Regions from separate parts of the Homo sapiens genome. Here region 2 is linked to region 1. Evidence: fine-mapped expression QTL. A gene starts in region 1. The other region holds a variant in brackets. All regions are shown on one strand. Distances are between the middles of the regions. Region 1 holds the start of MLIP (muscular LMNA interacting protein). Region 2 overlaps MLIP-IT1 (MLIP intronic transcript 1).

Region 1 (8,397 bases):
CTGACTTCATTCACTGCTCCCGTCACGAGTGAAGGTGTCTCTTTAATGAGACTATAAGCCATGCTGAGAACAGGTTCCAAGCCTTTATTATTTTATGTCTTCAGAGCTTAGAATCGTGACTGGCACTCAATAGATGTTTATTAAGATAAATAAATGGGACTTCTGGTACCTTCTGTTATCAAGCCTGAGGCATAAAAACAGACAAATGGATGTCTGAATAGCCTTGGCAGCTGGATCTGTTTAATCACTTACATGTTTCTTGGCAAACTTGTGGACTAATCTATTTCTTTTTTCTCAAATTTGTTTCCCATGTCAGGAAGAGGATTATTTGTTCTGTATTATTTTTTTAAAAGCAATATCTTAAGAGTCTTTCAGCTGAAAGGTATTGCAGTAATATCCGTTTAGTAATAAGGGTGACGGATGCCTGCTTCAGCTATCATCAATAATGCCAGATTTTAAAGAGAATTTTGGATTGTATTCATCTATTGCAAGCTTTGACAAACTTTGTTTTCCTGTGAAAACAAAAAAAAGATTATTCAACAGAGCAGTTTGTGTTTGTTAGTGGGAGAGAGATCATTAAAAGTTTGTGATTATAAAATGCTTAAGGGTCTTGGGCAGACCATAGATGACTTTTTGTCTATAGAAAAGTTGTTGTAATTAGAGGATAGATTCTCTTCTCCTCTCCACTCAGGTAATTTATATGCTCTTTTGTCATCCAAGACTAGGACCCATTTTTTGACCAGGTGCCATCACTTTCTATTTAAATACAGAATGGTTTCTATAGAAATTATCCAAAATACATGTGCTCTTTGAAGCTATATGTAGTTACTATCCAGATGGCTGAAGCATGCTGTTATAATGCATGACCATTTATGTGTTTTTAAGTGAAAATTATGACTTCTAGTATTATAAGAAATAGTCTATAACAGCAATTATTAGTTAATAAAACAAGGGAAAGAAAATGGTTAGAGGAAAGTTACCAATAAGACACAGAGAAAAATGTCAAAATAATAAATTGGTTTTCATGTTGTAAAATGACTCAAGAAAGAATCTGAGCAGGGAAGAGTAGGGGCTGAAGTATTTTCTCTTCTAAATTTGATTATGCCAACTTGCATAAATATTGCTTTCTGTTTGTGGGAGAGAATGAGAGAAAGAAAAGATCAGAGAGGAAAGGACAGAATGAGACATAGAAGAAGAGTTTCATAGCGTTTGAATCCACCTGGAATAAACTGATTGACCACTGACAAAAATCTGGACTGTCACTTCTTCTTGGAGAACCACACTAGAACTTTGCGATAAGAGTGATCTCTAAGATGTATTGATACTACCCTTTGGTGTTTTGATTTATATATATAATTTTATGTCTTCATATATATATATGTCTTTATATATATAAATCAAAACACCAAAGGGTAGTATCAATAAATACATATATATTTACATACATATATATTCATATATATATGAATATTTCCATTTCTGTTCTTCACTGAATAAAGCTAAAACATCTTAATTCAAGATCTTTGATGACCTACATTTAACCTACTTTTTTTTGTCTTACTTGCCTTTATTCTCATTTATGTTATTTATAAAACTAGAAAACAACAATACCCACAGGAGTAACGTGTATTAAGAATCTGCCTGGCACAGAGCTAAGAATCTGTGGAAATCTTACATGCTGAATTTAATTGTAATCCTCACAAGAACTCTGTGAAATGAGAGCTATTCTCATCCACATTTCACAGGTGAGAGGACTGAGCCTTTAAAAAGTTCAGTAACTTGTCTGAGGGCCCACAGCCAGTGGATGATGTGGCTCCAGGGTCCTGTGCTTTATGACTTACTGCTCTTGCTGTCCCGATAGGTGCCTTCAATCCAGCCCTCTCTCTTTGCTTGAAATACTTGCTATTCCATCCCACCTTCATAGTTTCCCTTTCCCCGTTCTTCTAAGTGCAGCCCAAATGCCACCATCTTGAATTACTGCCCTCCAGGTGGCTGTAACATCGTTCTCTGAAATTCCTCTGTCTTTGCTACTCAAAGTGTAACACACCAGCAGCAGATCTGGGGTGTGGCTCCCAGGGCATCTACTAGGAGCTTCTTGGAAATGCAGAATCTGAGGCCACATCTCAGATCTCCACACTTAGAAAGTGCATTTTAACAAGCTCCCCAGGGGATTTATGTGTGCAGTAGTTTAAGAAGAACTGCAGTATAGGGCTTTCTTTTCTTTCTTTCTTTTTCTTTCTTTCTTTCTTCCTTCCTTCCTTCCTTCCTTCCTTCCTTCCTTCCTTCCTTCCTTCCTTTCGTTTTTTCTTTTTCTTTTTTTTTTTGACGGAGTCTCGCTGTGTCGCCCAGGCTGTAGTGCAGTGGCGCGATATTGGCTCACTGCAAGCTCCGCCTCCCGGATTCATGCCATTCTCCTGCCTCAGCCTCCCGATTAGCTGGGACTACAGCTGCCCGCCACAACGCCCGGCTAATTTTTTGTATTTTTTAGTAGAGACAGGGTTTCACCATATAAGCCAGAATGGTCTCGATCTCCTGACCTTGTGGTCCGCCCGCCTCGGCCTCCCAAAGTGCTGGGATTACAGGCATGAGCCACGGCGCCTGGCCAGTATAGGGCTTTTTCTTGTTTTCTTTTTTCACTTTGTATCTTTGTTATTTGTTTACCTGTTTTATATTCTCAAACCATTAGCTTTTTGAGGGCAAGAGGCACTTATATTCTCTTTTGAGTATCCATAAATATGTGTAAAATAGAAGAAGGCTCATAGTTTTTTTTATAACACGGCACTTATATTCAGAAATTTAGATCATATTCTAGGTCTGTGTTGTTTGGAATAGTTCCTCCCACTGTGCTAATAGAATCACTTATAGCAATTATTTTACTCATTATGTTTCCATAATCTCAGGCTTTTGATAACATCGAAAATGTGAAGAGGCATAATCTAGGTTTCTAAAATAGTAATTCCTTCCCATAGCCTTTGATCTATATCTAGTCCTTTGGATACAACACTTTTCACTGCCAAAGCACAAATGTAGATATTACAGATTTGGAGAAAAATCAATACTTAGAAAATAGAAGTACTGAAAGCTGAAGACTCCAATCAATTTCACATATGAAGTTTTAAGGTTTGTCTGCAGTCAGGATTCTCACTGTCTTCCAGGAACCTTGGAATGAAATTCTGTTTTGACAAGGATTTGATTCCAAGCTTTATTTTAGAGGTGATTTTGTTAATAACATAACTTCAGTCACTACAGATGCTCCTGTATTGTTGCTTACAATTTATATACTAAGGATAAAGTTACTGATATTTTGAAATAACTGTGTGTTTTCTAGTTCTTTATTTGGACACAGTGTTTGCATGTATTTATACCTCTAAATGTTCTCTATGAGCATGACCAACTGATTATTGAGATTGGCAGGTGCTAGCGCCCTTCAATCAGCTTCTCATTGCTGCACAATCTGGCTTTTCTCTTCTTTTCACAGAATATATAATTGGAATACATGCATGAAAAGAAAAGAGGGAAAACACATATCAGTGGCTTTTTTTCTTTTTCTTTTTCTTTTTTTCACTTCTACTGATTCCATTTCAGCAGTTAGTATGACCTCTCATAATGTTCCAAATCTAAAAATTGTCAAAACAGAAATCTACTCTTCGGAGCTGACACAATTCCTCAATTTTGGAATGACTCTGCTTTACCTCTTTTTAGAATTTCTTCTTTCTGCGTGAGTGTGTGTGTGTTGTTTTAGTATGAGGCTCCCTTCCCACCTCAGTCATTGGTTTGCTCGCTCCCTTATGTGATGAATCAATGCTTTCAGAACAGGGGCTTCTGAGTGACTGCGGGAACAATTACTTCCAAATGACCTCGTGCATCTTATCAGGGAGCATTCAGACCACACCCCAGGTAAAAGGAAGTCTTTGCTTAATGCTTTCAGTAACTTTTAAAAGCAGTGTACGGTGCTGGTGGTATTTGCTGCAAGGATGTGAGGGAGAGCTGCCCAGTGAAGATAAATTTGTATGTATATTGAAATGAAATGCTATCTTCACTTAGAGAAAAGGGTGAGCTGATAAAGACAAAACTGCTCATTGGGCAAAGAAAATGCTCAGGATTGCCCTTGGCACAGTGATAATGTAAGATACCCTGTAATGCCTTAACAGGAGGCTAGAGGCCATCTGCGAGTGTGGGTGTCAACATCTGAAGGAAGAGAACTTTTAGGGAAATATAAGAAAGGAAGGCATTACAGCCCAAAACTGAGCAAAGGAGCTGTTAGCCTGCGTGGCATGCGGGAAAACAGTTTCTCAAATTATTAGGCTATCCGGTGAGAAGATGACGTTCTTAGAGATTTTGAGCATTTCAAAGTGTATTTAGAAAAAGATTTTAATCCTTTTATCTCATATTTCTATGACTAAATTAGTTTCCCAAGGATAGAAACTAAGATATTTAAATAACATTGACAACTGAAAGTGTTAATTGGCAATTAACAAGTGCAATGCTGTTAACATGCATCTGTTGCTGCTTTGTGTGGAAAATGGTTTTTCATCACCATAGCAATTCATTCTTAGGCTACATTGGAACTTAGCCACAGTATGCAGTAAACAGCAAATATTTTTTTGTTCTCTCCTAAACAAGGGATTAAATAGTCTACTGGCTAATATGTGGCTCTTTATCTGAATGTTGCATTGCATAGTTGGTGTAATTTCAAATTCTTTTCCAACTGAAATTCCTTGTGAATGAGTATTAGATCCTTGGTAAGTTAAGGATGCTAGGTAAAGGTGGTGAAAAGAGCTAATATTGTACTGTTAGCTTAAAAGCGAATACCAAATGATTGCCCTTTTTGTGATTATTCTTCTGAAGATATGTATGTGGACAGGAATTTATGTCTGATCTTGTTATTCTCCAACAGTAACTCAGGAAGATGAATAAGTCTTTAGTTTTATTAGATTTCCTGTTTCTGTGTTTTCTGGAATCACATCATGTACTGGTTCAACTAAAATAAAAAAAAATTGTTTCCTTACACTGGTGAGAAAATTTTATGTAGGATATGGATGTTTCTTTAGGAAAATATAACAATAAATTAGAAAGAAATAGGTTTTCTTCTTTTCAGTTGCCTTTATTGTCAGGATGTGGTTATGTTTAGAAATTTTTTAGGCAGTACCGTTGTAAAAGCATACCTTATTCATTGAAGCATCAGTTTTCATTCATACTTTGTTTCTACTTTATTCACTGAAAGTTATAGCTGTCAACTTTTAAAAAGTTCATAGCATGTGACATACCAGTTGTGGAGCTGTATTTGTATCTTAGATACTTAAGTAGCATTGAATTATACAAATTGTGCAAGGTGTTTGAAGAAATAAATTTTCATCATTATATATGCTTTAGAAGGTAAAGCTACTTACTGCTTATAATGGTTATATGTATTTTGTAACCATGGGGTGCTTATAATGAAGACTTTCATATATTATTTTTTAAATTTTATTTGGATGGAACATAAGATAGACCTATAGTCATGACATGGAAAGATAAGGGAAGGCCTAGTTACAGAACCTGGGGACAAAGTTGCAATTTCACCTCTTTACTCCTAAAGGATTATCTTTATTTCTTACTCAAATGAAATTATGGGATGGATTATTTGAACTACTTCAGTAATTTCCTTGCCAAAACCACTCTCCTTTCTATCATGATATTGATGAGATTAGTTATGTGATGAAACAGCCCTAGAAGATAATACATCTAGAAGGCCTGTTGTATTACGTATTGTTGATAGATAAGTGGGCTCCTTAAATCTCACAAGGGATCCTTCCTACAATATAAAGCACTGATTTATTACTTTTTGATGATAAGGTATTTTGACATGGATACAATGAGGAAATAATGACACATATCTTTAAAGGCGAAAAGAATATTGAAAATTAAAAGTTTTTAAAACCCTGTCAATATTCTTGTCTCACAGTTCCTTGATCTTCACAAGCTCAGTGCCCTTCCTTTCATATACTCAGTCTTAATGCCAAAGCCTGGAATTTAGAATCATCTGGAATTATCATACTTCTAATTATTAAATTAATAAACTCTCATATCATATTATGACCCCATCCATTCTCTCAAACAGTCATCATAGTATCAACTCTGTTTCCTGAGCACAGAGACCTCTAGTTCCTTCAACTTGAGGGTTCTTCCTCCTTACCTATACAAACTGAACTCCATGGTCAATCATTTGCTCTACTCTCACCAGTACCCTTAATTTCCTTATACTTGCCACATCCTGCCAAAACCAGCAAAGCATTCCTTGAGAGACTATCGAACAGCCAAGCAAATTGCCTCACTGTTCCTGGATTTATATTTGGACTGGTTCCTCAGTGTAGACTGTGAGAAATTTTGTTTCTGGTCAGCCCTCTTTCTGACTACTGTCAGTGATGTTTCAGCCTTTTAAAATCTTCCTTAAAACGCCCAGGCCACCTTGGCTAGTTCTTCCTCAGCTGGTGGATCACTCAATGTTAGAGTCTGTAGGGTTTGGCCTTAAGCCTCTTATTTTTCTATTTGTGTTTACATCTTTATTGATCTCATCTAGTCTCCTGGTTTTAAATATCATCTATGGGTTAACAACCCTAGTAATTTTATCCCCAGCACAGAATTTCCTGTAAACTTGACTCATACTCACATTTCCACTTGGTTGTATATTGGGCACACAAAATTTGATCGTTATTCTCAAACCAGCTTCAACTATTGTCTTCCCCATTTCAGTGAATAATATCTCATTTCTTGCAGTTATTCAGTTCAAAATTTGTCTACCCATCTTGATTTTTGTGTATCTCTCATATTCCACTTCCAATTTTTCAACAAATTTTAAGTTTTGTCTTTAAAATGTAGCCAGAATCTTAACAGTTCTTACCACTATTACTGCAGCAAACTACATTCAACTCACCAGTTTTTCTCCTATGGGTTATTGCAATAGACTTATAGCAAGTCTTCATAGCATTTATGAAAATAGTACTACATATGTTGTTTATTTATTTGTCTACTGTCTGTTTCCCTCCACTAGAATATAAACTCCATGAGGGTAGGGATTTTTGTTCACTGTTATGGCACCAACCCCTAGAATAGTGCCTAGCATTTAGTAGGCATTTAATAATACCTCATTGAATAAATGAAAGTAAGTAGAAGGCAAAGTATTACAGTGAGGGTTGGTTTTACTAGGAGCATAGTAGTAGGACTGAAGGCCATAAAAAAGGGCAGAGATGCAGATGTGTGAATAAATGTGGTGTTGGGGGCCTTGAAAATTCTTTTCTGATTGCTTCCGTTACCTTAACGAAATAGGAAACAAAGTCATCAGCTCCAAGTGAGAATGTGGGAGAGATGTTAGAGGTTTGAAGAAAGGGGAAAAAGTGTGAAAGAGTTTTCTAGGCCAGTGGAAGAGTGAATGGGCTATGGAAGTATAGTACGATTGTTGGGCAGCATTGAAAAGCCTTCTTGAGGCTCAGAGTGGTAAATATGAAGTGAGATCAGTAGGTGTGGTTGTGTGGTTTCCCCCAGGCATGTTTACCTTCCTGGTTCAGAAATAGAGTAGGTAGGGGATTAGACTTAGTGAGGGCTGTAATGTACTCAAACAGGATGATGATATAAAGGAGGACAAGGGATTTGAGGGGTATCCAAAAGAGTAACTGTGGTCAACTTGGTTTTTGAAGCTGGTTAAGAAGACAAATGTAGGAAAATAATTGTGGAAGAATCAGTAGATTTAAATCATGGTGAAGTTAAAAAATGTTAGAGTTGGACTACTAGGGGGATAGTATGGAGCGATAAAAAGTGATGGTCAGAGAATGAAGAAACAAATTACGGAAGGTTTGCAGCTATTGGGCAAGGCTAGGGATGTGAGGGGCAAGGAAGAATAGAGGTCAAGGAAATACAATATTATAAAAAATACCCATTGAGATATAATACTGGGTATTATACAAAGCATTGGGTTAAGAAGCGTGGCATTGAACCAGAAACTGAATCTTTAAGGAAAGAAGCATTTAATACGGGTGTGGAAAGATGACTGCAGCTAAGAGAGATTGTGAAGGGTATAGACTGATGACATGAGATTCAAAGCTGGAAGTTTTTAGACAAGAGAGAAGAATAGTCTGGAAGCAGTAAAGATAAGCAAGGAGGACACCTATTTTACTTCCAGGCCCATTGGTGCAGGAGTGTGAGAGAAAACATTTATCATTGAAATAGAGTCCTTCAGAGAGAACCATGTTTTAGTTATAACTAGAAAGTGAAGGGAGTATTTTGAAAATAAGATACAGATATGTAAGATTTTTTTAATTGCTCACTGAATTCCAGAAGGTATACAGTGAAAAGGTTTTGAGAGTTGGAGCAGGGTGCAAGATGGGAACAGAACTAGGAATGTGCATAGCATACAGGAATGGA
Region 2 (8,397 bases), 110 kb before region 1:
GCATCTAGCAGTGCCAAATACCTGTGAGTGCCTCCACAGATGTTGACTTGCTTCCTCTTTTTCTTTATGCTGTGAACAATCCTCCATTGCCTTCCAAGGAGAAGAAGTGACCTCATGGTCCAGATGTTTTACTGCCTCTAGTATTGCAAATCCCAGTGGAGAAGGTTCCTGGTTGAACCATGAATTGAAACACCTAGCATTGAAGTAAGAACATCTTGGTTCAAGGGCAAGGGGCTTTATCTTTTAATGTGGGTGATTGTTCCTGTGAGTGATTATAGTGAAGCTGTACTTTGAAAAATTGCTGATGTTGATGCTGATTACAGATATGGAGAATGGACAAAATGAGAAAAGAAAAATGAAAAATTGAACTTTCCTGTAAAAGCAACACTAATTATAGACATTTATATCTATGGCTTATTATTTATAACTAATTAGTATGCAGCACAATGGCAGTGATGCAAGTCATTACATATATCACACCACCAACTTGTTTCACTCAATTGCAACAATAATTTCTCTCCATGGACACTTGACTATTGGTTTGTTGTTCAGGTTTGTTCATCTACTGATAACATAGAGTAATTAGAGGAATAGCAGTTTCCACAAAGAGAATACTGATGTATAGTGATAATTTTTTGCACTTCATCCCTTAAACAGTACTGTGGCAAAGTTGCTATTCTTATCTGCATTTTTCTGATAGGAAACTGAGGCCCAAAGAATGTAAGTAAATGCCAAAAGCCTTAAATATAGACGTTGGACTCAAACACTTTTCTCTTCCAAGCTCTTACTTGGACCTATGCGGCAAAGCTGATCTGTTGAAAGACGTTTAGTGACACATAAATGTCTTTAATTAATGGAATGAAAATGACATGAGATGGATTTGTAAAATCAAGATTTGTAGGTTTAGGCTTGAGTTCTACATCCTAGGGCAAAGGATGTGACTGCTTATCTGCCCCTAGGGTCAGAATTCCTGACATTCTTGTTTTTTAATGCTTGTGTCTGCTTGCACTTTGTAATCTGTAGGCTTCCTGAAAGCTCCAAAAATCTAAAAACAATAAATCATTCAACATCTTTTAGCTTGTTTTTCTTTTTTAGAGACAGAGTCTCACTGTGTCACATAGGCTGGATTGCAGTGGTGCAGTCATAGCTCATTGCAGCCCTGACACCTTGGGCTCAAGGGATATTCCTACTTCCACCTCCCAGGTAGCCAGGACTATAGATGCACACCATCATGCCTGGTTAGTTTTTTTTTTTTAATTTTTTAATTTTTTTTTTTTTTGTAGAGACAGGGTCTTGCTATGTTGCCCAGGCTCATCTTGAACTCCTGAGCTCAAGAGATCCTCCTGCCTCAGCCTCCCAAAGTACTGAGATTAAGGGTGTGAGCCACTGTGCCCAGCCATTATTGCATTTTTGAGCTACCCAAATGGCCTAGCACTATCTTCAATATTTCAGAAGTACCATACTGTGTTCCAAACAAAACATAGCATTCCCTATGGACAGTGTGGTTTCTAACCGAAGTGGACAGTGGGTCCTCATGCCTGATGGCTCTAGAGAAGAGAAGGCTGCAATTGGACCCAAGTTCTTCAGTTAGGCCAATAAATACTCCCTGTTACTCTGATCTGATGATTTTGAGATTTATCTGCAAGGTGTAGGGGAGAAGGAAAGTCAATTTGCCATGCTTAAAGGAAAAGATAATGGGTTAAAGAAGACTTTGATGAAGCTTTGAAGTCTTAAGAAAGCTAGATTATATCATTCTCTCCAAAGGTGTTTCAGTCGCCCTTTTTACCTTGGGGTTTGGCGGTTATTTTATGCCCCCTAAAAACAATGTACCAATTATCCAGTGACTAGTGTTCCAATTAATTTATGGACATGAAGATTAACATGCAATCTGCTAATGCATTAATGAGTTTGTAATATTTAGAAATAGGAGGACCAAAACTGGTAGACCAATTCTGAGTTTTATCAACTTCAGTGGTTGAAATTAAAATGAAAATAGCAACATTTGTTTTTATTCTCCCTACAAAGAAACTAATTATTTTCCTCTGGGTAATGATAATTAACAAAATTCCTATTGTGTTCCTGATCAGTTCACAGCTGGCACTTCGATAATTACAAAGACTTGGTTTTATGAGGTGACATTAAACTCCTGCCTAACTTGGGAAGTACATTAATTGTATACTATTGCCTGAGCTTATTAATTCTAAATTATGCCTCAATGAACTTCTCAAATTGGGAGCAACATTTATATTAATAAACTAGTCAGTGAGAGGGAGGGAAGGAGGGTGCGAGAGAGAGAGAGAGAAAAAGAGAGATCATAAGAATCTACTACTGAGTGTAGATTTTGTCTGCTCCAGATGTTATAGCTGGGTTTAAAAAACTTTGATATGTTTGAATAAATTCCAAAGGAACGTCTCATCCATTCTTTTTTTTTTTTTTTTTTTTGTGACAGAGTCTCACTCTGTCACCCAGGCTGGAGTGCAGTGGCATGATCTTGGTTCACTGCAACCTCTGCCTCCTGGGTTCAAGCGAGTCTCCTGCCTCAGCCTCCCAAGTAGCTGGGATTACAGGTGCCCACCACACACACCTGGCTGTTATTTTGTATTTTTAGTAGAGGCGGGGTTTCACCATGTTGGCCAGTGGTCTTGAACTCCTGACCTCAATTGATCCGCCCACCTCTGTCTCCATCTCCCAAAGTGCTGGGATTACAAGCATGAGCCACTGCGCCCAGCCTCATCCATTCTTATAACACATTTTTAGCCATTCTTTTTTCATTTAAGCAGGAAAAGCGAAGTGCTAGGTAAGCCTGGGATTTGTGGTTGAAATGTGTTCAGAGTGCTACCCTCCCTCATTCCTTGGAACTTTCTGAAGGACCAGAACTGACCTGAGGACCTGTCGGGTGTGTATCACTGAGGGAGTTCCAGGGCTATGCAGGGAAGCCCTGAGTGGGATGCAGTGATTCCTCTCTATTGTGTCTATTTCCATGAGGGCTGCCATCCTTCATGTAACAGTACCTTTAGGAACAGGGACCATATATCTATATATTTCTATTTCTAAGTTTCAAACAGTGCTTGGCAGCTAACAGGTGGTCAACTAATGTTTGTCGGATGAATGAAGGGTGGTACCAAGGAAGAATGGTGCGTTTAGTCCTGGCTGCTAAAGGAGGTTTAATGATAATTGGCCAATGTGTGGTGATTAAGCCTCAACAGTTACATAGAAGAAACCATGTTTATACTCATGTTGCTTTAACAATGCCATTGAAGTCTGGCACCGTGTCTCATACCTGTAATCCTAGCACTTTAGGAGGCTGAGGCGGGTGGATCACTGAGGCCAGAAGTTTGAGACCAGCCTGGCAAACATGGCGAAACCCCATCTCTACTAAAAGTACAAAAATTAGCCAGGTGTGGGGGCACACACTTGTAATCCCAGCTACTCTGGAGGCTGAGGCATGAGAATTTCTTAAGCCCAGGAGGCAGAACTTGCAGTGAGCCAAGATTGCACCATTGCACTCCAGCCTGGTGACAGAGTGAGACTCTGTCTCAAAAAAAAAAAGCCAGTAAATGTTACTTCTATCTTAAATTTCCAGTATAGCAATTTAAAAGATGATCTTTAATTTTTATGGATACATAATAGTTGCACATATTTACTATTTATGGGGTACATGTGATATTTTGATACAAACATACACTGTGTAATGATCAAATCAGGGTAATTGCAATATCCAACACCTTAAACGTTTATTATTTCTTTGTGTTAAGAACATTCCAATTCTACTCTTTCAGTTATTTCAACAATAAATTATTGTTAACTATGGGAAATTTTTAAATACAATAATGTCTTATGCTGATGAGGATATGTGAAAGACACATTCATGCAACCCTTTCGGAAAGAAATTTAGCAGTATCTATCAAGAACTTGGACAATTTTCGTTATCTTTACTCTGGTAAAATTCAGCATCTGGAAGTCAGTTTTAATGAAGTAATTCAAAATAGAAAAATAGCTTTCTGTACACAAAGGTGGTGATCTCAGATTTATTTGAAATCATGGGAAATAATTTGAGTTTCCAATGAAATGGGAATGGTTACAAAATATTGCACATTGACTAATTGGTGCTTTGCTGATTTAAAATATTTTTCAAGACTTTACAGTAATATGAAGAATTCTTATATTAAGGTATAAAGTTTATACATCATTATCACAACTAAAATATACTATATATAGAAAAGCCTAGAAGGAAATATTATTAAATGTAAGAATAGAAAACAGATTGGGATAAAATCCAGGAAAATATTAACATTTTTAGTTGTATTTTTGGTTTGTTTTTGTTTTCCCAGTTTTTAGTAGACCCTTTTAATGATGCCTCCTCAACTCCCTTGTGTTGAGAATATGTGACTCTGCCCGGTCTCCTCCTCCCTTCCTCACCTACCACCACTTCTAACCTCCCACTACCCGTTGCAGATTGGATCATGATGGACACCTGACTCATGGTGG[G/A]CAAACTGGATCTTTTCTTCTGGGAATTAGACTTGGAAATTCAGAGAAAACAAGTCAGTTTGTATGCATGCCTTGGATTGAGAGACATGAACATTTTGGACTGGAGGTGCGGGCATCTTCTCCCACTTGCACAAAGAAAGCAGATTTTCAGGAAAATAAGACAAAAGCAGATATACAAAGAAAGAAAAAGACAAGAGTTCATGAGATCTAACAGAGGAACTGGTTAATGATGACTTTCCAGTTTCTGGTTGTAGCCTTCATGAAGCCTGGCTTATAATATACAGTGTTATTATTATTTATTCTCAAGTCAGTTTCTGTTCCTGCAATCAAGTATTACTATATAAGATGGCTTTACTTTTGGGTGTTTTTGGAAATATCTCTAGTGAGCATGTATTACTACTAGAATATTATAGTGTACATAATGATTGATGTATTTTTAAAAAACAATAGATATTTTATCAAGAGCTCCTGCTGACACACCATTTATAGCAAGTAAGAAGCATAGATTATTCATGGACGTAGAATTACAGTGCTTCACTGATTTTGTTTTTCTTACTTTTGGGAAATTTGATAATTTTATTTGCCTATAATATGCAGTTATTTGTTATTGTAAACAAACTTAATGTGACCAATATCAATTTTAAAATGATAAAGGGAAGAACCAATCATTAAGGTGGGTTGTGTCCAGCCTGTTCTCTGCACTTGTGCCATTGTCTAGCCTCTGTTCCCTGACTCTTGGCGAGGCCAGACAAAAATTATATTGCCACCATCTAACCTTTAGGAATACTCATGAATAAAAGCATTAATGACAAGGAAATTGTTCATAATGTGTTGTTTAATAAAAAAGTCACAAAACAGGATGGACAGTACACTACTAATTATATAAAGTATTAAAATATATAAAAAAGCCTGGCAGGAAATATATCTTTTTTTTTTTTGAAATGGAATCTTGCCCTGTCACCAGGCTGGAGTGCAGTGGCGTGATCTTGGCTCACTGAAACCTCTGCCTCCCGGGTTCAAGCGATTCTCCTGCCTCAGCCTCCTGAGTAGCTGGGACTACAGGTGCACACCACCATGCCCAGCTAATTTTTGTATTTTTAGTAGAGACAGGGTTTCACCATGTTGGCCAGGAGGGTCTTGATCTCCTGACCTCATGATCCGCCCGCCTCGGCCTCCCAAAATGCTGGCATTACAGGCATAAGCCACCACGCCCGGCTGGAAATATATCTTAATGTTAACTGTGGTATATTTGAGTTGTGGTTTTACAGATAATTTAAAATTTTCTGTTTGTACCTCTTTGTGTTTTCCAAAATTTCTGTGGTATATATAAATTTAGTTGGTAATAAAATAAAACATTTATTTTATTTTATTTTATTGGGGGTGGGTTTTGGAGCGGGAAGTTTAATAGACAAAAAAAAAAAAAAAAGGGAGAGGAAGCTGCCTCATGCTGAGAAAGGGGGTTGCCCAAGAGAGTCTCCCAAAAGTTCTATTTTTAATGAAAAAATAATTACCTTAGTCACCAAAACAGTATTGTCAGTCTTCCCTTCTTATTCCAACAGATGTGGAAGTTTAAGAAAGAAAGAAAGAAGGATGGAAGGAGGAATAGAGTGTGGGCTGCCTGGGATGCTCTACCTGTGGGCTTCAGGCCCTCTTATTTTTCTCTAGGGGAGTGTTGATAAGGACTGGGATTTGTTCCTGGTGGAGAAAATCCAAGGCTTAGAGTAGGTAGTGGCTGAGAGGTCTAGTTTGGAAGTAAATATTAGTTTTGAATCCTGGCTCTATCTACTCTTTTCTCTCTATGTAGACTTGGAAAATTACTTAACCCTTGCTAGTGTTGGCTTTCTCATCTGTGAAATGATGCAGCTAGCTCAAGGGATTGTTGAGAGCACAAAATGAGATAGCATAATCAATCATTTAGCAGAGTTACTGGGTCATAATAAGTGGTTGTGGTGTTTTTTTCCCATTACTGTTAGGTGACAGACGTAAATCCTCTGTAGATACTCTATTAATCCTCTATTTCTACTGGCTTTCATTATTTTTGTGTACGCAGACATGTCCTTCTTTCTATATCTCTAGCCATTCTAAAAGTAGATAAATCAGTGCTTCTGAAACTTGAATGCCCATATGATTAGCCTGTAGACCTTATTAAAGTGCAGATTCTTTCTCTGTATGTCTGGGGTGGGATTCACGTTTTTAATTTTTAACAAGCTCTCACATGATGTAAATGTTGATGTCCAAAGATCACTTTTAGCAGCAAGGATTAGGATAGCCCAGCTCAAATCTATCATCTGTGTGAAATCATGAACAATGTCCCCAGACAGAATCGTCTTTTGTTTCTTTGGCTCTTAAAGCACATCATTTATATTCCTAACTTAGCACTTAGCACATTCAGCCTGCTGTGATGTATACAATTCTGTTCATTTCTAACTAAATTCTTGACAGTAGACTGTGCGTTCAACTCCTGAAAGCTGTCAGTGTCCACACAGGGATGTTGACATACTCGACCCATGATTATCAAATTATTGAACTGGATAGAAAATAATCGAATAATGTCCTAAAATAACATTGTTTTTTGCATAAGCATTCATTTAGAAATCACCAACATCAATCAACTCAACTAGTGCAAATCATGAAAGAGAGTAGTGGTGTGACCCACACAATGGATGGTTTTGGTCGCTTGGCAGGTGTTAACCCAATGACCACAACCAAGGAGGATTTACCAAGGGGATTTTTGTTACTTGCAACAAGTAAGGAGAACACTGGGGATAGTTCCCAAAGCAGTGTGTCTCTCCAAAGGAAGATGAGAGCAGGGCTTTCATTAGGCTGGTTGGCTTAGTCATTGTATGAAAGGCAGGGTAAAGGCAGTGCAGGCACAGTCCTGATCATGCTTCTTCATATATTGCAGGTATAGAAAATGGTGAATAAGCTCCTCCCTAGGTGGGGTTTTTAAGTATGGTAATAGGGAGAGTTCACCAAACTTCATCTCCAACTCAGGCACCTCTGGTTTTACCTGGTTTTTGTTTTGCTATAGCTGGGCTTCTTCCTGGAACCTTTTGAAACAGCAGAAACTCAGTGTGCCACAGTTACAAGTTACTAGGGAACCCTGAGTTACAATGTGAATGATCCCAAAAGGCAAATAAATTGTGATAGCTTCCTTCTTTTAAAAATACACTATAGAAGGCAGGTGGGATGATTTACAGGGTGGGATGACAAAGCTAATCTGAGATGATATATTTTCCACAGATAATCAAGTAAATGAGCAATAATTTGCTTTTCAAATTCTGAGTCTCTTCCCTGGCTATGCTTTAAATGGGACTTCCACATGGGCCATAGCCCAAAGTTGGATCCCTTTGCACAGAGGCTAGACATTGAAGTAGTGGCCTTTGGGGTAACGCAGACTCACTTCTGTTGAGAGTAATTAGCGAAGAAAATTTGTGGGAACTGAGGAAGGTTCAGCAGAAGTCTGCCCTCTCTGGACATTTTTTGGTGGCTGGGAAGCAGGGCAATTGTCCTGCCTGACTGTGGAGTTTGTTCAGCCTTGTCATGGACATCTATTGCATAATTCCGACTTTCCTTCTCTGGAGTAATGGACATTTCACTTCAGAAGGACTTTTAATTTTACTTAAAAAATCCAGTCAACATAATAGAAGATAAATTCAATTTTCAGTAACATTTTACTCTGTTACCACTTATGTCCTTAGGGAAGCTTAAAGAATTTTCATCAGTACACTAAAAATTAGATAGTTGGATATGTTGCAAAACTTTCAACACTTGACTCAAAATTCCCACTATTGCTAAGACATTCTTATAAAGAAATATTTTGGGGGGAACTTAGCAACTACGGTTCTTGTGAAGTGGTCCCAGTGGGAATGAGGTTTATGCCAAACTCTTTTTTTAAAATTTGGTTTC

What was found.
Region 2: its variant is fine-mapped to the expression of MLIP in sun-exposed skin (GTEx, PIP above 0.99). The same link has a PIP of 0.9 or more in esophagus mucosa and unexposed skin.

The regions. Positions count from the first base shown.
Region 1 is chr6:54,107,679-54,116,075 of GRCh38, forward strand. It overlaps MLIP (muscular LMNA interacting protein), which reads left to right and starts at 3,765. Exons shown (of 14, transcript NM_001281747.2): 1 at 3,765-3,897. The coding sequence starts at 3,802.
Region 2 is chr6:54,002,516-54,010,912 of GRCh38, forward strand. It overlaps MLIP-IT1 (MLIP intronic transcript 1), which reads left to right. Exons shown (of 4, transcript NR_046832.1): 3 at 99-204; 4 at 4,456-4,637. Among named protein-coding and RNA genes, the nearest start is that of MLIP-IT1, 7.8 kb to the left of the region's middle. The variant G/A (reference allele first, on the strand shown) is at 4,489.